Regions from separate parts of the Homo sapiens genome. Here regions 1, 2, 3 and 5 are each linked to region 4. The links come from fine-mapping of genetic effects on gene expression. A gene starts in region 4. Each other region holds a variant in brackets. All regions are shown on one strand. Distances are between the middles of the regions.

Region 1 (5,106 bases), 83 kb before region 4:
GCTTGACAGGACTTAGCAAAGGCTTATAAGGAACCAGAGCTAACATTTATTGAGCACCTTTTGTGTGCCAGTAGAGGCCCAGGTATTTTACATGTATAATTTCATTCAAATAATCACAATAACTAACCCCAGTACTAACCCATTTTAACAGCTATTGAGGCTTAAACCTTAAACATGATAGAGATGAAGTTCCAAGTCTACTCTAGGAGCCATACATTCTTTCTACTCCACTATGCCCACCCATTGTTAAAACAGTTTTTTTCTTTTTTTTTTTTTTTGAGATAGAGTCTTGCTCTGTTGCCCAGGCTGGAGTGCAGTGGCACGATCTCGGCTCACTGCAACCTCCACCTCCCAGGTTCGAGCGATTCTCTTCCCTCAGCCTCCCAAGTAGCTGGGACTACAATACAAGTGCATGCCACCAATCCTGGCTAATTTTTAGTAAAGAAAGGGTTTCACCGTGTTAGCCAGGACGGTCTCGATCTCCTGACCTTGTGATCCGCCTGCCTTGGCCTCCCAAAGTGCTGGGATTACAGGCGTGAGCCACCGTGCCTGGCCAAAACAGTAGATTTTATTATGAAGGAATTCCCCTCCTCCACCCCCAAATTGTTCTTGGTATCATAATGAAAACAGCTATTAAACTGGCCCATGTCATCTGGTGAAACTTAAGAATGTCTCATCTAAGACAACATGTCAAAGCCATGCCAATCAGCTTGCCATCCATCCTGCAGTGTTCCAATGAGCTCTGACAAGAGAATGAAGGCTCTACCAAAAATGAGGTTAGTCAATAACAGCAAAAAAACAATCTGAGGATGCTGAAGACTAAAATTTTAATGAATGAGCTCAGGTTCATGAACTTCTATAAATGAACAAAATCATAGGGTTGACTTAAAATTTTTATTTTTTTGCTGACTCTGCAAGTTACCTTGCATATACTGTGAAATGTACCTGGTTTAAAAGTAAATCACGCTTCACTTTGGGAGGCTGAGGCGGGTAGATCACGAGGTTAGGAGTTCGAGACCAGCCTGGCCAACATGGAGAAACCCCGTCTCTACTAAAAACACAAAAATTAGCTGGGCATGGTGGTGGGTGCCTGTAATCCTAGCTACTCGGGAGGCTGAGGCAGAACTGTTTGAACCAGGGAAGCAGAGGTTGCAGTGAGCTGAGACTGGGCCACTGCACTTTAGCCTGGGCGACAGGGCAAGACTCCATCTCAAAAAAAAAAAAAAAAAGTAAATCACACTTTGGGAGGCCGAGGCGGGTGGATTGTCTGAGCTCAGGAGTTCAAGACCAGCTTGGGCAACATGGTGAAACCCTGTCTCTACTAAAATACAAAAAATTAACTGGGAGTGGTGACACGCACCTGCACAGTCCCAGCTACTTGGGAGGCTGAGGCACAAGAATTGCTTGAACCTGAGAGGCGGAGGTTGCAGTGAGCCGAGATTGTGCCACTACACTCCAGCCTGGGCAACAGAGGAAGACTCTGTCTCCAAAAAAAAAAGGAAAATCAAGTTCAAGTCAGCTCCCTCCAGACACTGAAATTATCATTTTAAATTTAGGAAGAAAACAAGAACTTGCAAATTGATGGATATGCTTTGTCACCATTAAGTAGCAAAAATTAAATATTCTTATTTTTCTAAAATTTTATGTGAGATGACAGAGCTTTGGAATGAGTATTTTTAGACACTGTAGTTATTTAACATTCGTGTAAAGATTATTTTCAGAACTAGATCTCACTTCTTAAGAACAGTGTTAATATGCATATCAAGAAAAATTAGTATTTCCATCTATAATTAGCTGGTGGTATTTTAAACCACAAAATTCTAAATAATTAAAATAATCAAAGGTAAAACAGAATCACCAACAGGGAAGCGAACTATATAGGTTGTATTCATCACAGGACTTTGATCAGGATAAAGAAAAGTCCTAACTTTACTTAACCTCATAATATGCTTTATAATTATTATTAAAGAAGTTCCTTATTCAACAAAACACTTGAGAGAAGTTAGATAACTTGCCCCAAAGTCACTCAGCTAATAAATGGCAGAAGCAGA[A/C]TTCAAACCGAGAAAGATCTCTGATTTCAAAATGATTAGGTTGTATAAGGAAGAATAAGAAAAACACAATCTCATTGAATCACTTTCTCCTGATTGGGACCAAAGTTGCTCAACTAAGCAAAACAACTCACACTTTCCTATCATTTTCAACACTTGTTCTCAATGTAGAAAAAAGTATTAAATGGAAGTCATATTAAATATGTACAGGCCTCTTTATATAGGGGTCTTCCTCCCACATAGACTATCTATCACCCTGATAAATGATGTAGTGATGAAAGAAGTCATGGGTAATTTTTTAAATTTTAACTAAAATGTCTTAACATGGTAAGATTTAAGGAATCATGGCATTAAACATCAAACAACACATACATTATATGAGACAATATGGATAAGGTGCCAAAACAGTACCTGGGAAATAATAGACAGGTGCCGGTATGTATTTCCCTCCCACTTATAACAGGCAGCTCCCTTTGTGTTGCTCCCCAGCTTTGGGAATCGACACTTCTAGGTCTTTTGCTAACTTGGGAAATGACACAGTTTGGATATTTGTCCCTGCCCAAATCCCATGTTGAAATGTAATCCCCAATGCTGGAGGTGAGGCCTGGTGGGAGGTATTTGAATCATGTGGGCAGATCCCTCATGGCTTGCTACTGCCTTTGTGATAGTGAGTTCTCGTGAGATCTGGGCATTTTAAAATGTGTTGCAACCTCCGCCCACCTTCTCTGTCTCTTGCTCCTGCTTTTTGCCATGTGATGTGTCTGCTCCTGCCTTGCTTTCCACCGTGAAAGCTCCCTGAGGCCTCCCTAGAAGCAGATGCCGCCATGCTTCATGTACAGCCTGCAGAACCGTAAGCCAATTAAACCCCTTTTCTTATAACTTACCCAGTCTCAGGTCTTTCTTTATAGCAATGCAAGAATGAACTAACACAAAAAATTGGTACTAGGAGTGAGGGATTGCCTCACATACAGATAACTGAAAATGTAGAAGCAACTTTGGAACTAGGTAACAGCAGAGGTTGGAAGCATATGGAAGGCTCAGAAGAAGACAGGAAGAAGAAAGAAAGTTTGGAATTCTTAGAGACTGGTTAAATGGTTGTGACCAAAATGCTGATAGTGATCCAGACAGTGAAGGCCAGGCTGAGAAGGTCTCAGACGGAAATGTGGAACTTAGTGGAACTGGAGCAAAGGTCACGTGTGTTACGCCTCACCAAAGAACTTGGCTACAATGTGGCCCCCGCCCTAGGGGATCTGTGGAACTGAACTTCAGAGTGATGATTTAAGGTATCTGGCAGAAGAAATTTCAAGGCAGAAAAGCATTCAAGATGTGGCCCGACTGCTTCGAACAGCCTACACTCAGGTACAGGAGCAAAGAAGCGACTTAAAGTTGGAATATATATTTAAGCAGGAAGCAGAGCATAAAAGTTTGGAAAATTTGCAGGCTGGCCATGTGGCAGAGATAGCTTTTGCAAGAGAGAAATCCAAGCAGGCTGTGGAGCAGCAACCATTTGCTAGAGAAATTTGCATAACTAAAAGAGAGACAAGTGCTAACAGCCAAGTCAATGGGGAAAAGGCCTGGAAGGCATTTCGGAGACCTTCCCAGCAGCCCCTCCCACCACAGGCCCAGAGGCCTAGGAGGACATTATGGTGTAGAGGGCCAGGCCTAGGGCCCCACTACCCTGCACAGCCTCAGAGCTCTGCTTCCTGCGTGCTGGCTGCTCCAGCTCCAGCTCCAGCCAAGGGTCAAAAAAGCCGGGGTACAGCTCAAGCTGCCACTTTGAAGAATGCAAGCCATAAAGCTTAGCAGATTCCATGTGGTGTTAAGCCTGTAGGTGTACAGAATAAAAAGTGAAGAACGTTTGGCAGCCTCCACTTAGATTTCAGAGGATGTATGAGAAAGCCTGGGTGCCGAGGCAAAAGCCTCCTGCAGGGGCAAAGCCCTCATAGAGAACCTCTACTAGGGCAGTGCCAAAGGAAAATGTGGGGTTGGAGGCCCTATACAGAGTTGCAAGGGGGCATTGCCTAGTGGAGCTGTGAGAAGGGGGCCACCATCCTCCAGATCCCAGAATCGTAAATCCACTGGCACCTTGCACCTTCAGCCTAGAAAAGCCACAGGCATTCAACTCCAACCCATAAGAACAGCCCTAGGGGCTGAACCCTACAAAGCCACAGACAAAGAGCTGCCCAAGGCCTTGGGAACCCACTCTTTCTATCAGTGTGCCCTGGATGGGACGTGTAGTCAAACAGGATTATCTTGGATCTTTAAGATTTAATGATTGCCCTGCTAGGTTTCAAACTTGTCTGTAGCCCCTTTCTTTTGGCCAATTTCTCCCTTTTGGAATGGGAGAAATGTCCATACCCCACGGTATCTTGGCAGTAGTCAACTTGTTTTGATTTTATGGGCTCAGAGGTGGAAGGAGAAAAGTCTCAGATAAGACTTTGGATTTGGACTTCTGAGTTAATAGTAGAATGAGTCAAGGCTTTGGGGGACTGTCGGGAAGGTGTGATTGTATTTTGCAATGTGAGAAGGACATGAGATTTGGAAGGGGTCAGTGGAGGAATGATATGGTTTGGATATTGGTCCTCACCCAATCTTATCTTAAATTATAATCCCTAATGCTGGAGGTAGGGCCTGGTGGAAGGTGTTTGGATCATGGGGGCGGCTCCCTCATGGCTTGGTGCTGTCTTCGTGATAGTGAGTTCTCGCAAGATCGTTATCACTCACTCACACTCTCGCTCTCTCTCTTGCTTTCTCTCTCCCCAATCCTTGCCATGTGATGTGCCCACTCCCCTTTTGCCTTCCACCATGAGTGGAAGCTTCCTGAGGCCTCCCCAGCCATGGTTTCTGTACATCCTGCAGAACCATGAGCCAATTAAACCTCTTTTCCTTATAAATTCCCAGTCCCAGGTATTTCTTTATAGCAATGCAAGAACAAACTAATACAGAAAACTGGTAATGAGGTGTGGGGCATTGCTATAAAGATACCTGAAAATGTGGAAGTGGCTTTAGACCTGGGTAATGGGCAGAGGTTCAAACAGTTTGGAGGGCTCAGAAGAAG
Region 2 (5,106 bases), 220 kb before region 4:
TCAATTTTGGGCTCCTTTGAAAGGATAGTTCTTGAGGTCAATGTTTGAGACTTGTTCTGATCCTGCAAGGACTCCTCCTGGCTGTCTCTTCTCCCAGTTCTCTCCAGGAAAGTTATAGCCTAAAGTTCAGCCGATAACTCTAATGAATCTACCAATCCCCTCCCAATCCCCAGTCACTGCAACCTTCACTGTTTTTGAAACGCCCTTAGGCTTGAACTTCTCCACACTCTTTTGCAAATGAAGTCAGTTCCTTTAGGAAGTAATTTGGAGCTTTCTGTTTTACAGCCTGCTTCTGCTCCTGGTGAAAATCTCTGAGCCATTGTTCTGGAGCTGGGGATGAGGACAATGGCTTGCATCTCTTTGAGTGATGGGAGCCAAATGCTCGGTGGATGGGGGATAGTGGCCTTAGGTCTTTTTGGTTGGCCTTTCCCAGGATGAGAGCACCACCTTAAAAGCCTGAACAAGATGCACTGGGGTCCCAGTATTTTCAGCAGTGATGTCCCCAAGGTAGAGCCTGTGAGCCATGAGTAGGGGCTGGGTAGAAGGGACCCCCCCCACCTGTTGACTGCATTTATTTGAAACTTAGCTTAAGCAAGAGGTGGCTGGGAGCAGGATGAGAAGTGCTGACATCCTGCCCCTCCCAGGAAGACAGCCCTCCAACTGTGAGCTGGCAGAGAGGAAGCCCTGAGTTCTTGGCTATACCAGTCTAGAGTGGAGTTTTTGTCTCATTGACCTGGAAGATGGAAGGAGGGAGGAATCTTGGTTCAGATACAACAAGCTCATTCTCTTTATCAAGCTTTAGTATGTTTTCTTGAATAAGCACTTCTTCATTTGGTGTATGCCCTTAGGACCATTTCTAGAGACTTTAAAGAATTGGGGGTTTGGTTTGTTTTTAAAATAATTCTCACTGGTTTCACTGGTTTCCCTTGGGAGTTGTCTGCAAAGCTCCTCATGCTATCATGTCAGAAGTGGAATTCCTAAAAGCTACTTTTGAAATGTGAGAAATATTTCTCCTGTTGTATTTAATGTCAACTCAAGAATGGTTTTCCATGGGCTTTTGGCCTGTCTTTCTTTGCCCATCTCACTTCTGTTGACCAACCCCATTCCTACCTGTATTTTCCTCCCTCCCTTCTGTTTTCATGAGGTTGTTTTTAACAGCTTCTTACTTCCCTCCAAAAGGAGCCCCATTCTTTTGCACAGTAATCACCATCCTAGCTAGGGTCATCCTAGACACAGGCCATTCAGCCCGGAGACCTATTTTTCGCAGACCATGGGTGTACATGTGAAAAGAAACCATTTGTCTTCCTAGATTATAACCTGAAGATTTGATACAACCCAGATCTTCTCAGTAGAAATTTTTTTTGGTCACAAGTAGCATTGACCAAACTCTCTTCAAATTCATTTAGCTTTCTTGATAATATAGACTCTTAGGAAATGAGCTTCAGATATACATGGTTGACAACATAAACTAGTATTTTCTTTCTTTTCCAGTAACTGCTGAAGTTTCAAAATGTCTGTTTACCATATTTAAGTTTTGGTAAGTAGTTCATGTTTTCCTTATCTGTGCCAAGCATAATTTTTTTTTCTTTTATTTTGAGATGGAGTCTCACTCTGTTGCCCAGGCTGGAGTGCAGTGGCGCAATCTCGGCTCACTGCAAGCTCCGCCTCCCAGGTTCATGCCATTCTCCTGCCTCAGCCTCCTGAGTAGCTGGGACTACAGGCGCCCGCCACCACGCCCGGCTAATTTTTTGTATTATTTAGTAGAGACGGGGTTTCACCATGTTAGCCAGGATGGTTTTGATCTCCTGACCTCATGATCTGCCCGCCTCGGCCTCCCAAAGTGCTGGGATTACAGGTGTGAACCACTGCACCTGGCCCAACCAAGCATAATTTTTTAGCACTTGCCCACATTCTTACCTTCTTGGCATTCATTTCTCTAGGCCCAATTGTCTCAGGACTTTCAAACCATTCTTATGAGTAGTATCCTTTTCCTTCAGTTATCTCTTATTCTCTTCTGAACCTCTTATATTCCCTTGTGTTTTGTTTGAAACCCAATGACCAGAACTGCCCATAGCTGGCCAACATGGTGCTAACGAGGTCTGTATGGCAGGTTTTATTTCTCTCCTTTTGAATAATGTCCATCATATTTTGGTTTCAGTAGCAAGGTGATCAATGTGAACAAATCACATGTCTTCCCAGGTCCCTTTCCGGGGTGGTAAATGTGATTTCAAAATTCTTGTTGTGTAACACTTTGCTTACTTCTTTGTGCACTTATGCTGACTGCTAAGACCCAGGAAACCCACCCAGCAGCTCCACACTTTCACATGGATGGCACACTCCCAGTGCTGCACACAATTCGTGTCCCTTTCTTTCCCATTCAGGAGAATGCATTACTGTAGACATGCATTGCTTTCATTTCCTCTGTGAACTATACTCTGTCTTTCCTCTGGTGAACTCCCACTACCACCTAATCAATCCTATGTTTTCTGTGAATTACCCAATTTTTAGTTTCAGTGGGGGGTATGTCAGGCTAGGACAGTCAGAGCACTCATCTGGACACAGTGATTATTCTGAGGATGGAAGTAGGACTTAAGCCACTGAGACTCCATCCTGAAATGCCTTACTGAGAATTACTGAAGGCAGAGCCATAGAATGAAGCCAAACACTACTGAGGGCC[A/G]TCTTTGTCACTTGAGGGAGAACATGACTAAGAATGAAGCCAAAAGTAAGGAAAGAAAAGGAGATCCCTGATGTCAATGTTTGGGCACCTGGATATATCTCTGAACTTTAATTGTGTTAGGTAATACATTTCCTTCTTGGTTGGGTCAGTTTGAGTTTGATTTTTGTCATATGCCCCAGAAAGAATCCTAATGATCATACCAAAATGCAACTGGATGAGCGTGATTTTATTATTGGGAAATAATCTTGCCTTGGTTCCAATTAATTTAGAAAAAGAAACTGTTGGCTGAGCACGGTGGCTCACACCTGTAATCCCAGCACTTTGGGGGGCCAAGGCGGGCGGATCACGAGGTCAAGAGATCGGGACCATCCTGGCCAATATGGTGAAACCCCGTCTCTATTAAAAATACAAAAATTAGCTGGGCGTGGTGGCGGGTGCCTGTAGCAGCTACTCGGGAGGCTGTGGCAGAATCACTTGAACCCAGGAGGCGGAGGTTGCAGTGAGCTGAGATCACGCCACTCCACTCCAGCCTGGCGACAGAGCGAGACTTTGTCTCAAAAATAAAAAAGAAAAAAAGAAACTGTTTGCAAATTTTGACATTTTATTACTTGTAACATATTGGTGTTCTGCTGTAGTTCATGGGGCCAGTGATTGAATTTAATTTGGAAGATGCTATATTTCAAGGGCCTGTTGCGGTGCCCAGAAAAGTACTTAATAAATGAGTTGAATGAATGTGTCATGGAAGTAGGAAGTGTATAATCTACATGAAAACCATGTACAGTCATAGTCATGCATTACTAACAAAGGGGATATGTCCTGAGAAATGCATCATCAGGCAATTTCATCATTGTGCAAATATCAGAGTGTTCTTACACAAACCTAGATGGTATAGCCTACTATACACCCTGGCTATATGGAATAGCTTATTGCTCCCAGGCTATAAACCTGTATAGCACATTACTGTACTGCAAATTGCAGGCAATGGTAAGTACCTGTTTCTCTAAACATAGAGAAGGTAACAGTAAAAATACAGTATTATAAACTTATGGGACCACTGTCATATATGCGGTGCATTGTTGACCCAAAATGTTATGTGGTACATGATGATATTAATTTCTCCTTATCATAAATAAAGATGAGACTAATTCCACCACAGATCTGAATAACTGCTCTGTTTCCTTACCCAAAAAAGCACATCTGCATACTTCTTTGATCTATGTCTTATGCCAAAAAATGTCTACTGTCCCACTATATTAAAAGTAGAACTTTTGACACAAATGACACCCTCAATCTTTTGAAAATCTAAGTAGATTATGCATATCAAATTTCCCTTGGTTATGTCTATTTCTCTGTCAGAGAATTCCAATATATTTAGGCATGACTTTCCCTTGAAGAAAAGACACTACCTCTTCTTCAGCTGTTTCTGTTTGCTTAAGTGTTTGGCAGTTCTCTTCTTTATCATATATATTACTAGGGTGTCCAGTATAGGAGGGGAACTCGTCAACTTTTAAATTTCCAAGACTTCTTAGAATATTCTCATGGGGAGGGATTATATTTACATTCACTAGTCTTCAGGAAAACAACTTGTTTTGTTGTTTTAAAATGTGCAGTGGATTTGCTTATAAGACACTGACAAAAACTCTTTATATCCATATCTTTATTTAAACAAGTTTCCATAATAGCTAGGAGAATACAGCATTAATGACACACATTTACTAAGCACAACAATGGACAACTACAAATTTAGAGCATAAATGTAATTCTGATATTGTTTTGGTTTTTATCTTAGCACTAGGTGATATCTAGTGAAAACCCATGTTTCAAAGGCTTTTGTTGATATGAGATGAATTATTAACTTATTTTTAAAAATTGCACGTGAGATATGCTAGAATGGGTTCTAGAGTCTAGAGTTAGTTGATAATGCCTTTCATGTCTCAGTATTTCTGCTTCCTTTTTAATGGGTAAATGTTTCACCTAAGAACTTTCAAAAAATTGTATCAAAATTTTCTATGCAGATCAAAGTAGAATTCCTTTTCCAGACCCAACAAGGAAAAATATTTGAAAACTGCAATGTTCAATTCCATTTTAGTTAAAAGGATGTCCATTTCATAGTAAATTAATACAGTTAATAATTAAAATACAATATGTTAAATGGCATGAACTCATTTTTGCGCAACACTGTTAGCGCAATTTAAATCTCCCAAAGACACAAAAAAGTCAATTTTACTGCAGGATCCCACAAAAATACATAACCAGGAATCATAAATTACAACATATATATCCACATTTAAAGAAAAAATTCACCATTTGTTGGGAAAAAATAATGGCTCAAATGATTTACGGAGCCTGAAATGTGGGCTAAAATTTTATAACATGATAACAATAAGATTTGAAACTGCTGACTCTGAAAAATGCATAAAAATATACTA
Region 3 (5,106 bases), 190 kb before region 4:
TATTTAATAAAGAATTTGCTCAAATGACAGACATGGTTAAAAACTCAATCAAAAAGAAAGTGGACAACAGTAGGCTCAGTAACAGCTTAGAAGGGCTATGAGTCAGCAATGTGTGTGGTCTGTTATTCAGGTTATGGAGAAGAAAGGCATTCCAAATACAAATATTCATTTTCCAGTTTAGACAGGAGTAGATTTAGCTACTAGGCCAACCATTAAAGGGAACAGTTGCTATCTCTTCAAAGTGTTAAGTTGTACTTCTTGGATTTTACGTGACCTTTCAAATCACATTTTGCTTCCATCACACTGTAAGCCTAGTGTTAATAACAAACCAAACGTGACAATGGACTCAGGACACTGACAGAGGTGACACCACTGGCTAAAAGACAGCTGTGGGGAGAAACAGGTTTCGTGAAAATTTTGAAGAGACTTCCTGGGAGGGGGCAGGCAGCAGTGTGCTCTTCAGTTACAGAGGGCTATAAGTAGCAAGGGAAGACAGCAGAAAAGCACTATGGTTTTACATACAATCATCCGTTTGTAAAGGGAAATCCGATATGATTGATACTTCTTAGGGTCATCTGCATATAATTCCTCAAAATACTGAAAAAACAGGCACAATGGATATTTGTTTTTGTCTGTGTGTTTGAGGGAAATGCTATCTTTCAGCAAAATCAATTTTAAAATATTTTAAAATACAAATAGTGAAACTATATATACTTGAAAGGCTCTGATTTGTCACCTTCCATTACCCTTTTATCTTTCTAGTATAGATTATTCTAATTACATATGTACAGATGTTTCTTGTGTGAACAAAGGAAAGAGGCTGTGGCCAGGATGCCATCACTTAGCAGGCCCAGATAAGGCTGTCATTTCCCTCCTCCAACCTCCTGCCTTTTTACTCCCAGCCTCCCCAACACATGATGCTCACAACTTGCTGCACTTTTTTTTTTTTTTTTTTGCCGCCAGCAGCAGTGGCAAGAATAGGGGAGGTAAATATAATAAAAGTGAGAATAATAGCAATGTTAGCTTGTGAAGCTGGAGAGGCTGGTGGGAAGCTGTGCATCTTCCTTCGCTGAAAGACAGCACGGGGGAGGCCTGTGAAGCCTGTTCACTAGATGAGGTAGAAAAATCATTTTTGTGTTTTGTGTTGGTGGTAGGTAGGTGGGCAAGGTAGAGTTTCAAGAGCACTAAGCCCAGGTCTCCTGCTGGGCTTTAATATCCTACTCAAGTGTTTCTTATAGAAATGCACAATTAAGATTGAGAAAACAATGATTTTGAAAAAGTCTATCATTTCCTGTACTTATGTTTGAATCCATCCTCCTGAATTAGTAGTCAGTGTGATGGCAGGAGAAGCAGCTGACCTACAAAAGGTTTTCCCCAAACTCAAATTCATTAACTGGGCTCTATTAGCTTAGAATATAGGGGCTTAGTCTATTTTTTGTATTAGCTATGAAAAATTGCCAAAAAAATTAATATTGCAAACAAGGTTGCAAGAGAAATGTCTGACCAACTTAGTGAAAAAACCCTGGAAATCTGCCACCCAGAAGCATCTTTATTTCACGATTTCACCTTGTATTTTAAAACAATAATTTAAAGCACAGAACTTGTATGCCAATCAATCAACTTATTATATTATTCAGTATATTTGGTAATACTTAGTCATCAAAGCATTGTTAGTTTAATTTAAGCAACAGTATACTTGAGCTTTGTAAAATAACACTTCAAAAAATATTTCATGATTCAGAAAATTTTCCCCACAAATTAGTGAGATGTCAATCACTTTGGAAAGAGCCCACACACTGCCCCCACCCTCCTCCCTCATTCCCATGGTGGAGCCTCATACAGACAGACTGTGAAAAAGAATACCTTTGCGTTTTGCTTCTAATTCATATAAAAGATGGTTGAATAAATGACACTAGAAAACTGTTTGTAATGTAAATTATCACAAATGGAGTAATGGAGGGATAATTCAGATTGTTAAATCTTCAGAGAAAATTCATACTATTTTATTATAGGTCATTAAAAATGTTAATTTAAAAAAGACACAAATCACCACCAATCCTAAACAATTTTTCTCAAAATCGGGCTAGCACTACAATATAGACTTTATATAGAAATATGAAATTATCACTTTTTAAGGATTTTTAATATAGTAAATATATTTGTCAAAAAACTGTAAATCAGTAATAAAAGTTATTATGTGACTGAGAAATATTTTAGAAAATTTTTTTGGCAAAAGAAAAAAAAAAAGGAACAAGGCAAAAAAAAGAAAAGAAAACAGTCAGACTCCATGCCAGGGTTTAGAATCTGACAAGGAAAAAGACAATTTCCTCACTTGTTATACAAGTTCTGTTTAAAAGAACAGAAAATATGTAAACCTGAATCCTAACACACACCTCCCTGACCTGGGAGCTCCATCCAACATCAACCAAAAACCCCGGCTTAGTTTTGCCAACCGCCTTTCTCAACCTCAACTCTAACCCTACTTGTCTGCTAGAGGTGGAGCCTG[G/A]GATGGCCTCAGTGGCTGCTTGGGGACCAAAGGTAAAGGAAGCCTGTCCCCAGTCTCAGTTGTGACAATCACATAATAAACCTAGGATGGCAGAGGATCTGCAGCTGAAATGGAGGAAGCAGATCACCTGCCATCAAAAGCCCAGCCTGCACCCAGGTGGTTGTCTGCCTCCAGGGCAGGTCTAAGAGCACGCAGCCCTCCGTGATAAAGAGAACCTGTGCCTTCTTCCTTCCTACCAAAATATTTGTATTTTCCTTACTCTGTCTCTGCTGGAGTAAGAGGGGTAACAAGTACAGAGGGGTGAGTTTTTCCCAGCAAGAAAAACCCGTGTTTGATCAAAAAGAAACTAGACTGTCGGGCAGGCTAGGTTAAGAAGCATGTGGACCCGGCAGCTCTCCTTACCAAGTTTTCGTTGGTCAGCCGGGTGATCTCGTGCTGCAGGCTGGCCTCAATGCGGGCCTCTGGGGGCAGCTGCAGGTTCTGGGCCAGCAGCTGCTGCTGTCGGTTGTTCTCCTCCTTCAGGCTCTGGATCTCCCCACGGAGGGCCTCGGCCTCATTCTCATGGCTCCTCTTCTGTGACTGCAGCTGGGATTCCAGGAGCCTGCGGAGAGGACACATGGGTCGGAAGGGGAGACGACACCCCGAGTTGCTGCCTAACGGGTGTAAGGCATCGTGTTCACTTGCAAGAGTAGGAAAAGCAGATATTCTTTAGTATCTGTGTTATCTTCTGACTTGATTAAAGTCAAGAAACTAAAACAAGAAGCAGAAATAGAAACGGGTGCTCTCACATTTGTGTCTTTCTGCATTATATAAAGTTCTCAGAGGCCCTAAGAAACAGGAGAGTTTTAGTTCTCTTGAAAGGTTCATAGGAGGCCGGGTGTGGTGGCTCACGCCTGTAATCTCAGCACTTTGGGAGGCTGAGGCAGGCGGATCACCTGAGATGAGGAGTTTAAGACCAGCCTGGCCAACATAGCGAAACCCCATCTCTACTAAAAATACAAAAAATTAGTCAGGCGTGTTGGGGCATGCCTTTTGTCCCAGCTACTCAGGAGGCTGAGGCAGGAGAACTGGTTGAACCCAGGAGGCAAAGGTTGCAGTGAGCTGAGATTGCACCATTGCACTCCAGCCTGGGCAACAAACAAGAGCAAAACTTCGTCTCAAAAAAAAAAAAAGAGGGTCATAGGAAATGAGGATGTAAAAAAAAAAATCAATTGAAAAAAACAGCTTTAATTTGCCTTGCATTTGCATTTATAAATTAGCATTTAAATTGGCAAAGACAGTACACCTTTGCCACAAAACAACTCTGCACTATAAAGGCCAACATTATAAACTTCCAAATTAACTAAATGTGCCTTCAGAACTACAGTTACTAATTCCAGGCAGAGGGAATTATATTCTACTCCTATTCTGAAAGACAGAAAGGCTGGAACACCACTCCAGCCTTATATATACAGATTTACCCGAATCCACACAAATAGTTCTGAAATTTCCTATATATATTTTAGATCTGTCATCTTCTCTCTCCGCATAAACTTACATATCAGAAACAGAATCCTAACAAGATGTGGTTTTAGAACACAAATATTAATAGGACCAAAAAAGTGGTTATTGCTTTTCCAAGCAAACATACAGCCAGCTGTGCCCACAGAGCAGACCAGGCATTGGCAGTGAGAACACCAGAGTCAGAGCATCCTCCCTTTGCCACGCACCCCTGCTTCTACAGTCACTCTCTTCCAAATGCAAAGTTATGGTTAAGAACTAACTAATGTGAAGAAAGAAAAGACATTCTTTTATTCCAGTCCCTTGGTTGCCAACTGCTGGGTAAAACTTAATGATGCCATTGCAAGCAAACTGTTAACAGTGGACTAAAAATATTTAGTGATTAAAACATTTCAAAAAGATCTGCAGCAATAACACCCCAAAGTTAATGACAAGCGTTAATGATGAGAACAAAGCAGAATAAGCAGAAGCCCCTTGAACAAACATTTGAGTGTTTTAAAAATTTAATCACTAAAATAGAATTTTAATGAGATTTTAAAGACAAATATCACTAGAGCAGATGAATGTCTGTGTTAGAAAGGTGCTGCTGTTTCAATTTTATTTTCTCTCCTCTGAACATATTTAACGGGTTGAATTTGGGTAATTATTCTGAGCTATAGCAATGCAGAAAACTCTCCTGATTTGCTGTTTCACAAATGTGAATTTCATAATAACCACACAGAGTGCCAAATCATGCATTTCATCTTGCTTTTAGACAGCATGATAATAATATATAAGAAGGTAGGCTGGGCGCAGTACCTCAAATCTGTAATCCCAACACTTTGGGAGGCCGAGGCAGGATTGTTTGAGCCCAGGAGTTTGACACCAGCCTGGGCAACCAAGTGAAACCCTGTCTCTACAAAAAATAAAAAAATTAGCTGAGTGTGGTGGCACATGCTTGTGACAGTCCCAGTTACTCAGGAGGCTGAGGCAGGAGGATCGTTTGAGCCCAGGAGGTCAAGGCTGAATTAAGCCGTGATCATGCTACTGCACTCAAGCCTGGGTGACAGAGCAAGACCCTGTGTCAAAAAAAAGAAAAGAAAAATGTAGCCACATTGCCA
Region 4 (5,106 bases):
ATAGTAGTTTTTATCTCTGGAATCAGCCCAACCTTCCCCATGTCCCAACCCATTCCCTAACTTCTACTAATAAATATCATACCAGCTGTCTGCCTGCTGTTGAGGTAACAGCAGGTTATTTATGCCCCTATAGATTCAAAGTGGGTCAAGAATGTAAGAAGCAGACTATGAGCGTGTTGAGGGAAAGGACTGTATCTTGTTCATTGTTAAATCCTCTAAACATTAAGCAAAGTACCTGGCACACAGGATGCCTGATAAGTATTTCTGCTTGCCATTAAGCTAAGGCCCATTCACAAAAAGAATTTGCCAACAAATAACCAAGTAACCAGACTATTAATTAGGCATAAGTATATTTAGAAGAAGGCAGTGTAAGCCCCAACTTCAGTCTTGATCTCTAAGCCAGTCTGTCTTTATAATGACAAAGAGGTTAAAAAAAATTTTTTTTCAACACACGGTCTTGCTGTTTTGCCCAGGATGGAGTGCAGTGGCACAGTCATGGCTCACTGCAGCCTCAACCTCCCAGGCTCAAGCAATCTTCCTGCCTCAGCTGATCATCCTGCCTCAGCTCTCGAGTAGCTGGGACCGCAGGCGTGACTAACTCGCCCAGCTAATTTTTATTTATTTATTTATTTATTTTTTGAGACAGAGTTTCGCTCTTGTTGCCCAGGCTCGCGATCTTGGTTCACTGCAACCTCCGCCTTCCAGGTTCAAGTGATTCTCCTGCCTCAGCCTCCTGAGTAGCTGGGATTACAGGCATGCGCCACCACGCCCAGCTAATTTTCTATTTTTAGTAGAGACGGGGTTTTGCCATGTTGGTCAAGATGGTCTCGAACTCCTGACCTCAGGTGATTCACCCACCTCGGCAACGTGTTGGGATTACAGGCGTGAGCTACCGTGCCCAGCCTAACTTTTTAATTTTTTTGTAGAGACCAGGTCTCATTATGTTCCTCAGGCTGTTAAAAGGTAAATTTTAAAATAGATTGTGATAAAGCTGTGACAGAAGCCCAAAACTTTACCATTTACAAATCACAACATCTTTTCAATTTTTTCTCCCAAATTATCCTGGGGGAAAAAAGCATTCGAAATCCAACAACAATTTATTATCCACTCAGTCTCTAGTTAAGCAGCCTACTATTAGGTGACTCAAAGATGACTGCTCACCATATAGAACGGAGGGTGTCCAATCTTTTGGCTTCCCTGGGCCACACTGGAAGAAGAATTTTCTTTGGCCACACATAAAATACACTAATGATAAATGATGAGCTAAAAAAAAAATTGCAAAAAAAACACAACAACCCATGTTTTAAGAAAGTTTATGAATTTGTGTTGGGGCACATTCAAAGCCGTCCTGGGCCCACATGCGGCCCATGGGCTGCGGGTTGGACAAACTTGATGTAGAAGTGGAGGGGATGGGCTACACAAAGTAACCAAGGAATGTTTACAGACTGATTATCTCTTCATGTGAAAATGATTTTGATATTTCTTAATATCGACCTCATAAGTTCCTTATGAGGATTATGAGTTCATATTTTTAAAACGCTTAAAACAGTACCTGGCACATAGCAAGCACCATATTAAGTGTTTAAGTTACTTTTAATCAGTTTCCAATTGCATTCGTTCATATGTTAGAGATCTACAATGCCTAAAGAAATTACCAGGTTGAGAGAGAAGTTCCAACTGTACAGTCGTTAAATCTAAAACTAGAAAGAAAGAGGTCTCAGACAATGTTTCATGCAAGCTCATTTCATGGTTGAAGAAATTAATCATATATCTCATATTTGCAGAGAAATTCATAGGTTACAAAAAGCTTTCACAACGATTATTAAGTTTGATTCTCACAACAGCTTGTAAGGGATGCAAGGCAAGTATAATTAACTGCATTTACTCATTAGGAAATCGAACCAGAGATGTTAAGTGACTTGTCCAAGGTCACAGTTAGTAAGTCCCGGCTTGAATCCAGGTCTCTTGATGCCCAGTCTTCTTTCCTCTACAAAACACACTGCAACTTGGGCCCTGGACTTCAGTGACATTTGGAAACAATGATTCCAGTGATTACAGGACCCTAAATGAAAGTTCTGTTGCAAAAGCTAATGTGAAAAGGCAACTCTATTAACTGCATGTAGAAGTAATCAATATCTGGCAAAATATCTACCTACACATGAGTGTACAGTATAAAATGCCATGATTACATATATTCACAAAGGTCATCACAAATCTGCGCAGCACTCAAGTGACAGTTCTCCATAATATGTCATTCAGAGATCGCCAGACCCTGAGTATATTGATGTCAGTCTAAGAAAAGACTGCCACTTCCCTTAAACCAAACCCAGAAGGGAAAGGCTTGCCCCAGAGGATGGTAAAGACATGGAGCCTAACAAGGCTCTGCGGGATTACACGCAGGTTGCAAACTCCCAGCGATAAATGAGTACCGACCCTCCCAGCCGGTGAATCAGCTCGCGTTCATCCGGCAGCATCTTTCCCCGGGGCTCGCCACCCCCAGCGCAGCTAAACTGGGGAGCTAAAGGTGATACGGCCACCGTTTGCAGGATTCAAAATAACCTCACAGAAAGGCTAGCTGGCGGTAGAAGCGGCACTGCATACCAACACAAGACGTTATTTTAAGCGCGTGTCCCCACGAGAGAACCCATCCGATCTACTGGAGCAAGCATCTCCCACCCGCCGGGAATTTTCCAAAGCCAAGCAGGAGGGGAGGCACGCCCGCCCTGCTAAATCCACATGGGCCCCCTTTCCACTCCGAAGCCCGCTCTGCCCCCAGCTCGAGCAGCGCGGCAGGGGCCTGGGAGACCCCCGAGGCGGGCCACCTTCCGCCGCCTTCACCATCTCGCCCGAAAGAGGAAGGTGCCGCAGCGGGCGACCGGCTGGTAGGGCCGAGGGTTCTGAGGCGCTGAAGGGGATGGCGCTGGTGGGGCTCGCCTGGGCCCGGCGCTCCCGCCCCCTCCCCAGCCTGACAGCTGGCGGCGAGGGCCGCACAGCCCCAGTCCTCGACGCCGGCCGCGGGGTGCCTTACCTTTGTGTAGAGCTCCGACGCAGCCATGGCGGGCCCCGCGCGCCTACGCCCCCCGCCTGTGCGGAGGCCGCACCTCGCCTGGGCGGCCGCCCGAGCGGACTAGGAAGCGCCCGCAGCCGCCGGCAGGGAGCAGGGCAGGGCAGGGCCGGGCGGGGAGGGCCGCGCGGGGCGGGGCGGGGCGGGGCGCCTCAGGCGCTGGCCGCCCGCAGGGGCCTCGCCATCACTCCCGGGCTCGCCGCGAGCAGCCGCGAGCGCTCCACCTGCCCGGGGTCCTAGGGGTCGCCGCCGCCGCCGCAGCCACTTCGGCGGCCCGCGATGCTGCCTCCGCTGCCGCCGCCGCCACCGCCGCCGCCCTGTGCATTATGGGAGCGGGAGGAGGCTGCGCTCCAGCGCTGCCACCGCGGCTGCTCTGGGCTCTCTCGGGCTCACGCTGCCTCCCATCGGCTACGAGCACAGAGCATCATCATCATCAGCCTGCCAGCCGGCCCCGCCGCCGCCTCGCGCCCTGCCGAGGCCCGGAAACCCGCCCGGGACGTGAGCCCCGAGGGCGCGGCACACCCCGGGCGCCCCCACCCCGAAGCGAGCCCGGGGCCCTCTGCTGCGGAGCCTAGCTCCCGCGGTAGCGCAGCCATGGCACGGGCTGTTACTGTGTCCGAATAAACGATGGGAGCCTCCAGGCTGCTCCTCCCGTCCTTCCAAGCATTCCTAGGGAGAGGATTTAGGGGAAGCCCTCTTGAAAGACTGTAGAATAACCCAGGACTGTAGAAGAGCCTTGTCAGCAGCAGTGACCCGGGAGATGGGCAATGCAGGACCGGGAATTTCAGGTTAAGGTTGATCACCAAGGTCATTCCGAGCACCTCGATGTCTGCAGCAAAGTCGTCTCCCGATACCAGAGGGCAAGGGCCGCTTCTAAGCTACAGAAACTTAAGTGACTTTGAAACGAGATAGCCCGGGGACAGCCCAGGTGCCTCTTTCCTAGACCTGTGCGTTTGCGGAGATGCAACTACCCTTCTGTCCCAGCCTTCTTCCCGTCCTGTTCGCTGCTGGTGATTGTCGGCTCCATGGTGGCACCTGAAGTTTATCCGGTTGCCACCTGAAAATGACGGAGTACTTACATGGAAAATCTGTATTACAGTTTAACTCAACATCAAAAGGGCAAAGCCGCCCTCACTCTCCTCACGGTGATCCTTGAACATCCAGCACAAGAATGTGGTCTTTCTACTCCCAACCCTGCGCTGTCTTCATCCTCTATCTTCTCCCCACCCTCATTGTCGTTTCTGGTTGAATAATCTTCATTCTTTATTGTTGTCGTTGTTGTTGTTGCTGTTTTTGTTTGTTTAATCCCTGCCTCTTTGTAGTGCCCTCATCTCTCGTTTCTTTGAACTACAACTGGTCCCCAGTGCCTGTCATGGTAATCTGGTAGACCATTTCTATCACGAACAACTCTCATGGCTGAGGCCCCCGGTTGTGTGTGTTGTGTGCGTGTGTATTTGGAGAAAGACCATTCACTGAAAGGAACGGGGCCAGTCCTTACTCCGTGGAACTCAGACCTCTCCTCTTCGCCCACAATCCCCTCAGAAATGCTAGAGGGAATGTCTACTGAGTCGAAAGTCCTACAGATTTGTCTCTGTTCCTTCCCATTGCAAAACCAAATCGCTTTCATGTTTCTGGGACCCACTCTTTCTTCACCCAGACATAAAAAGAGAAAACGTGTGCAGTGACGACCAGCGGAACGGAAGGAGCACTGGACTGAGATTTAGGAGGCCTGGCTCCTACGCCTTGCAGTTTCTTCATGTCGTGTGCAAGGTGGTAACCACTCTGCCTGTTTTCTCACCTTCAAATAATACCTACCTCTCAGGACTGTCGAGAAATGCTGAGTATACTGAGAAAAAAAAAAAAACTAAAAAACTGGACGAGTTCTTGTAGGTGTGAATGCTTTCTTCGTTTTCTATTTTTTTCAAGTGATGAGGAGAAAACAGAAAGGGGAATTATCCTCTTATAAGTCCAGAACGCATGCATTCAACCACTCAAATATTTGGGGCCATACTAAGAGGAAGGTAATGGAGATGAGGAGGAGA
Region 5 (5,106 bases), 93 kb before region 4:
TTGGCCTAATTCTTCCCCGCCTTCCTCCCAACTAGTATCTTCCCCTCAGTTTTGCTCTCCATGCTGCCACCAATGAGTCTCCTCTAAGACCTGGCACCATGCCTCTTTTTAAAAACACTACAAGCACTCCCCATAGCACACCAGTTAAATGCAAGAGTTTTAGGATTAGATGTGAATCTAAACCTGATAATCATAATAAATTCACAGGCCAAAATAGAAGCTTTTTAAAGTATCTGCTATTTTCACTAATCTATGCCATTAAAAACACTATCAGGATAGAAAACTGAGTTTGCCATTTTTACCAATTTAGTAAGTAAAAATTCTAGGTAAGTTCAAAATTTAACTTCCATTGGGAGTTTACTTCACAGTAAATTTACACTTTTGAACTCCCTTCACTTTATGCCAATGACAACAAATGAAAGTGAGATCTCACCTTTCCTTCCTCGAGGTGAAGCAGGAGGACTTTATCTCCTGGCTTATAATCTTTGAGCAGCTCTGCTGACTTCCAGACTTCCTCTGGATCAGGTATCCAAACCCTGGCAAACTAGAAGACAAAAAGAAAAAAATTTAAACTAGCAAATCAATTATTTTACAATCATATATAAACATATGATAACTATTTATAATTAAACAATTTATGAAAAAAGAAATCTTGGCCAACATGAAATTCACTTTTTTTTTTTTTTTTTTTTTTTTGAGACAGAGTTAAGCTCTTGTTGCCCAGGCTGGAGTACAGTGGCATGATCTCAGCTCACAGCAACCTCTGCCTCCTGGGTTCAAGCAATTCTCCTGCCTCAGCCTCCTGAGTAGCTGGAATTACAGGCGCCTGCCACCACACTCAGCTAATTTTTTTGTTTTTAATAAAGATGGAGTTTCGCCATATTGGCCAAGCTGGTCTCCAAACTCCTGACCTCAGGTGATCCACCCGCCTCAGCCTCCCAAAGTGCTGGGATTACAGGTGTGAGCCACCACGTCCAGCTGAAATTTACTTTTTAAATTAGTAAACAAAAAATATTTTAGCTCTCATAGCACCACCATTCCCAAATTATATAAAAAGTGTGCTCTGAAAAAACAGTTATGATCAAAGCTTGACTTTGCTTTACACAGTAAATGCCACCTGAAAGTATAATTTTAGGTTAAAATGTACACATAAGATCTATTTTTGAAGCTATGGTGTTGTGGTTCTGCCAGTTTCAACAGCACTGCCATCTTTTTATGGCTGGGTTTACAATTTGGATTTTTTTGTTCTTTCTTTTTCTTTTTTTTTTTTTTTTTTGAGATACAGTCTCGCTCTGTTGCCCAGGCTGGAGTGCAGTGGCACGATTTCGGCTCACTGCCACCTCTGCCTCCCGGGTTCAAGTGATTCTCCTGCCTCAGCCTCACGAGTAGCTGGGACTACAGGCATGTGCCACTGTGCCCAGCTAATTTTTGTATTTTTAGTAGAGACGGGGTTTCACCATGTTGGCCAGGCTGGTCTCGAACCCCTGACCTCGTGACCCACCTGCCTCAGCCTCCCAAAGTGCTGGGATTACAGTCATGAGCCACCGTGCCCGGCCCACAATTTGGATTTTTTTATGGTGGTTTGCATCCTGTGCTCTGCAAAGCCTTAGTGATTTCTCAGACATCCTTCAGGAGCCATCACAGTAGGGAGAAGAGGAGAATAAAAATAACAGATTTTTTAAAACTGAAGAAACACGGTTGTTCAGCATTTTGCCTTCATTATTTTATAAAGATGAGTGGGAAATGGTAAAAATGGCACAGCCAGTCACTAATAAGCTTAGCTCCTGTAGCCTCAACATCATGAAAAAGGCATGGTAATCATCAGGGATTCCCAAAGCAGCAAATATTTTGCCTCAACTAGATACTCCCTGGACATAAGCCAGAAGATTATGTGGTCAATTTTGAAGAAAAAGAACAAAATATACTAACATGCACAAATCTTTCGAATACCACATTGAAGAAGTGTTTTTATGTGCTTGGACTCTCTGGGAAGAAATTTCCCTTTAAAACACACATACACTAAACCTAAATGCCCATTTTCATGAACAAATCACATATGAAAACAGGAATCCTAGATTCAGCCAGCAAGGGAAAGACATGACACAATCAATCATGGCTGGCATGGGCCAGACT[G/A]AACCCGGTCTCTGGCCTGTATCTGTATCCTCATTTCATGTAAATTCACCTCTAGATTTCATTTTTAACAATAATCAGGGTACTAATTTACTTGGAGCTTTGAGAAGGAGCATTTGGATTTGAGTATGTTAAATATGGGGCAACTTCCCAAAGAACTGTGATAATGTAATGACTATTCTAAGTACTGGGCACAAAGTTCTGGAAGCTTGTAACAAGGTCATTCCCAAGTACAAGAGAAATTTATATGACCCAGTGATGAACTTACAGATAGGAGAAAGCGAAAAGAAAGTGGGTGAACGAAAGTACAGGTAGATCTGAGATTCAAGATAATTTAAATTAAGAAAAACATTTCAGCATGCCATGCCACTGTCCTGGATATTACGTTAACCTCTTTTTTTTTTTTTTTTTTTTTGAGACGGAGTCTCACTCTGTCACTCTGTCACCCAGGCTGGAGTGCAGTGGCACGATCTCGGCTCACTGCAACCTCCGCCTCCTGGGTTCAAGTGATTCTCCTGCCTCGGCCTCCCGAGCAGCTGGGACTATAGGCACATGCCACCACACCCAGCTAATTTTTTTCTATTTTTAGTAGAGACAGGGTTTCACCGTGTTAGCCAGGATGGTCTCGATCTCCTGACCTCATGATCCACCCGCCTTGGCCTCTCAAGGTGCTGGGATTACAGGCATGAGCCACCATGCCCAGCCTATGTTAACCTCTTTACTGACAAATATTTTCAAGCCTTCCTATTGGGAAGCTGCTGTGGTATATTGCCATAGTTTCCAAACTACTAGATTTCATGGCTGGTAAAATTTTTTACTTAAAGTTTGGGGACTGATATAAGGTTATTAACTAACTTTTAGTCTTGACAAGTAAGATTATAAAACCATTAATTATTGGCAGCACTTACAGACAAGTAGAGGCTAAAGCCCTCACACTCAGCAGAGGCAACATAAATACCAATTTACTGTCTAATATCACCATCGTTTTACAAAATAAAGGACATTTTAACAAGAAAACAGTAGGACAAATAGCCATCACAGTTTTTTTGTTTTCTGTTTTTCTGACACAGAGTTTTCCTCTTGTTGCCCAGGTTGGAGTGCAATGGCATGATCTCGGCTCATTGCAGCCTCCGCTTCTGGGGTTCAAGCGATTCTCCTGCCTCAGCCTCCCAAGTAGCTGGGATTACAGGTGCCTGCCACCACACCTGGCTACTTTTTTGTTGTTGTTGTATTTTTAGTAGAGACAGGGTTTCGCCATGTTGGCCAGGCTGGTCTCAAACTCCTAGCCTCAGAGAGTGATCCTCCCACCTTGGCCTCCCAAAGTGCTGGGATTACGGCGTGAGCCACCACACCTGGCCTGGCCATCATAGTTAACATACAAATCCCTTACCATGTTCTACAAGGGCCTTCATGACCTGTCCTTTCCTTCCCCTGCCAACCTCTAAGCCGGCACTATGCAGATCTTATTTTAGTTCTTCAGGAACACAGTTTTGTTTGCTCCTGTCTCTAGACCCTGGCTCTTGTTAAGCCCTCTATAATGTACTTCTCCCAGATCTGCTTATGTCTGCCTCCTTCTCACTTATATGATAGCTCAAATGTAAACCTCTTCAGAGAGGCCTTCCCAGACCTTTCTAGCGGAAATCAATCCAAACTACTATTACCATTCTCTATTTTACATTCTTCAGCACTCTTATTCACTATCTGAAATCACCTGCTGTTATGTTCTTGTTTGTTTACTTATTTACTATCTCTCTTCCTTCATTAGAACATAAGTTCTGTGTCTGTGTTGTTCAACACAGCAGGCAGTACTTAGAACAGTACCTGACACAGAGCTGGTGCTTAGTAAGAACTTATCGAAAGAAGATCAGAATAAAAGGCATCTCTTTAAATTGAATATAAGTAGCATGATTAAAAGCTCGCTCAATTGCTTTAATTTTCTCTTATTATTACCAACACATACAAACTTTTAATCTAAACAGTTTGCAGAGGAAAGAGTATGGAATTAGACTATGGGTTCTACTCCCAGGGCCACCAGATGGGCCTTGGCCTTTATTTCAGGCAACAATAAAATGAGGATGACAACAATAGTCTTCTAGTTTATTGCAAAGGCTTACGCACATAGAAACTTCATGAAAAGTATAAACCAATATATAAGTACAAGGTGGGGTTGTTACTGTTTTTCCCATAGGAAGTGATTTCTAATGTCATATATCAAACATGTTACTGAAATTTGTTTTACAACTTTTTTCCCAGGGACACAGTCCATAAACTGAGTAATATCTGTACATATCACTAAAGCCTTACTCATGTAATAAATATTTCTATGTACTAACTGCTCCCACTCTGAAGCTTACTTTACAAAGACAGCACTTTTGTAGCTTTCTCTGGAAGGCACTACTGGTTCCAGAAAAGATATATAAATATAAAGAGATTAAGAGTCGGGCTGGGCACAGTGGCTCATGCCTGTAATCCCAGCTCTTTGGGAGGCTTAGGCAGGCGGATCACTTGAGCTCAGGAGTTAGAGACCAGCCTGACCAACATGGTGAAACCCCGCCTCTACTAAAAATACAAAAATTAGCCAGGCATGGTGGTTCGTGCCTGTAACCCCAGCTACTCAGGAGGCTGAGGTGGGAGGATTACTTGAGCCCAGGAGGTGGAGGTTGCAGTGAGCTAAGATCAAGTCACTGCACTCCAGCCTGGGCAACAGAGCAAGACTCCATCTCAAAAAAAAAAAAAAAAAAAAAAGAGAGAGAGATATTCAGAATCATGAAATGACCTATCACCTTGACTGATGAAAACACAAAAAAGGAAAATGTGTCCAAGTGAGTTTGTAGAAGCATGACTGACCAGTGCCTAAACATGAGGAGACTTTAAATCTAGAAAGTGCCTTCATGTTCTGTGTTAGTAGGGAGCTCCAGCTCAGATTTCCACAAGTATTTTGCAAAAAGTAGATACTTTGCCAAAGACCAGATTTCC

Alleles and levels. Positions count from the first base shown, and alleles are read on the strand shown. Sizes are in standard deviations (SD) of each study's normalised expression. Not every link is listed here.
In carriers of allele A in region 1, the expression in monocytes after Pam3CSK4 of the gene that starts at base 3,129 in region 4 tends to be lower than with C alone (moderate effect, 0.60 SD a copy in Quach 2016).
For the expression in caudate of the gene that starts at base 3,129 in region 4, G is the low allele of the variant in region 3 and A is the other (small effect, 0.19 SD a copy in GTEx).
For the expression in tibial artery of the gene that starts at base 3,129 in region 4, allele G in region 5 goes with a higher level than allele A (small effect, 0.24 SD a copy in GTEx).

What was found. PIP is the estimated chance that this variant, and not a neighbour inherited with it, causes the effect.
Region 1: its variant is the best candidate, but not a certain one, in a credible set for the expression of MYO5A in monocytes after Pam3CSK4 (Quach 2016, PIP 0.90).
Region 2: its variant is the best candidate, but not a certain one, in a credible set for the expression of MYO5A in lung (TOPMed, PIP 0.87).
Region 3: its variant is the best candidate, but not a certain one, in a credible set for the expression of MYO5A in caudate (GTEx, PIP 0.53).
Region 5: its variant is the best candidate, but not a certain one, in a credible set for the expression of MYO5A in tibial artery (GTEx, PIP 0.77).

What each region holds. Positions count from the first base shown.
Region 1 is chr15:52,442,496-52,447,601 of GRCh38, forward strand. The region is part of intron 1 of MYO5A (myosin VA); the gene reads right to left. Among named protein-coding and RNA genes, the nearest start is that of MYO5A, 84 kb to the right of the region's middle. The variant A/C (reference allele first, on the strand shown) is at 2,052.
Region 2 is chr15:52,302,964-52,308,069 of GRCh38, forward strand. It overlaps MYO5A (myosin VA), which reads right to left. Exons shown (of 42, transcript NM_001382347.1): 42 at 4,320-5,106. LOC105370819 (a long non-coding RNA gene) reads left to right here. Exons shown (of 4, transcript XR_932250.3): 4 at 1,492-1,537. Among named protein-coding and RNA genes, the nearest start is that of MYO5C, 9.7 kb to the left of the region's middle. The variant A/G (reference allele first, on the strand shown) is at 2,678.
Region 3 is chr15:52,337,288-52,342,393 of GRCh38, forward strand. It overlaps MYO5A (myosin VA), which reads right to left. Exons shown (of 42, transcript NM_001382347.1): 32 at 2,909-3,107; 33 at 523-597. Among named protein-coding and RNA genes, the nearest start is that of MYO5C, 44 kb to the left of the region's middle. RefSeq lists an enhancer at 954-1,530. The variant G/A (reference allele first, on the strand shown) is at 2,507.
Region 4 is chr15:52,525,752-52,530,857 of GRCh38, forward strand. MYO5A (myosin VA) reads right to left here and starts at 3,129. Exons shown (of 42, transcript NM_001382347.1): 1 at 3,029-3,129. The coding sequence starts at 3,055. RefSeq lists a silencer at 2,779-3,658.
Region 5 is chr15:52,432,742-52,437,847 of GRCh38, forward strand. MYO5A (myosin VA) reads right to left here. Exons shown (of 42, transcript NM_001382347.1): 2 at 434-544. Among named protein-coding and RNA genes, the nearest start is that of MYO5A, 94 kb to the right of the region's middle. The variant G/A (reference allele first, on the strand shown) is at 2,134.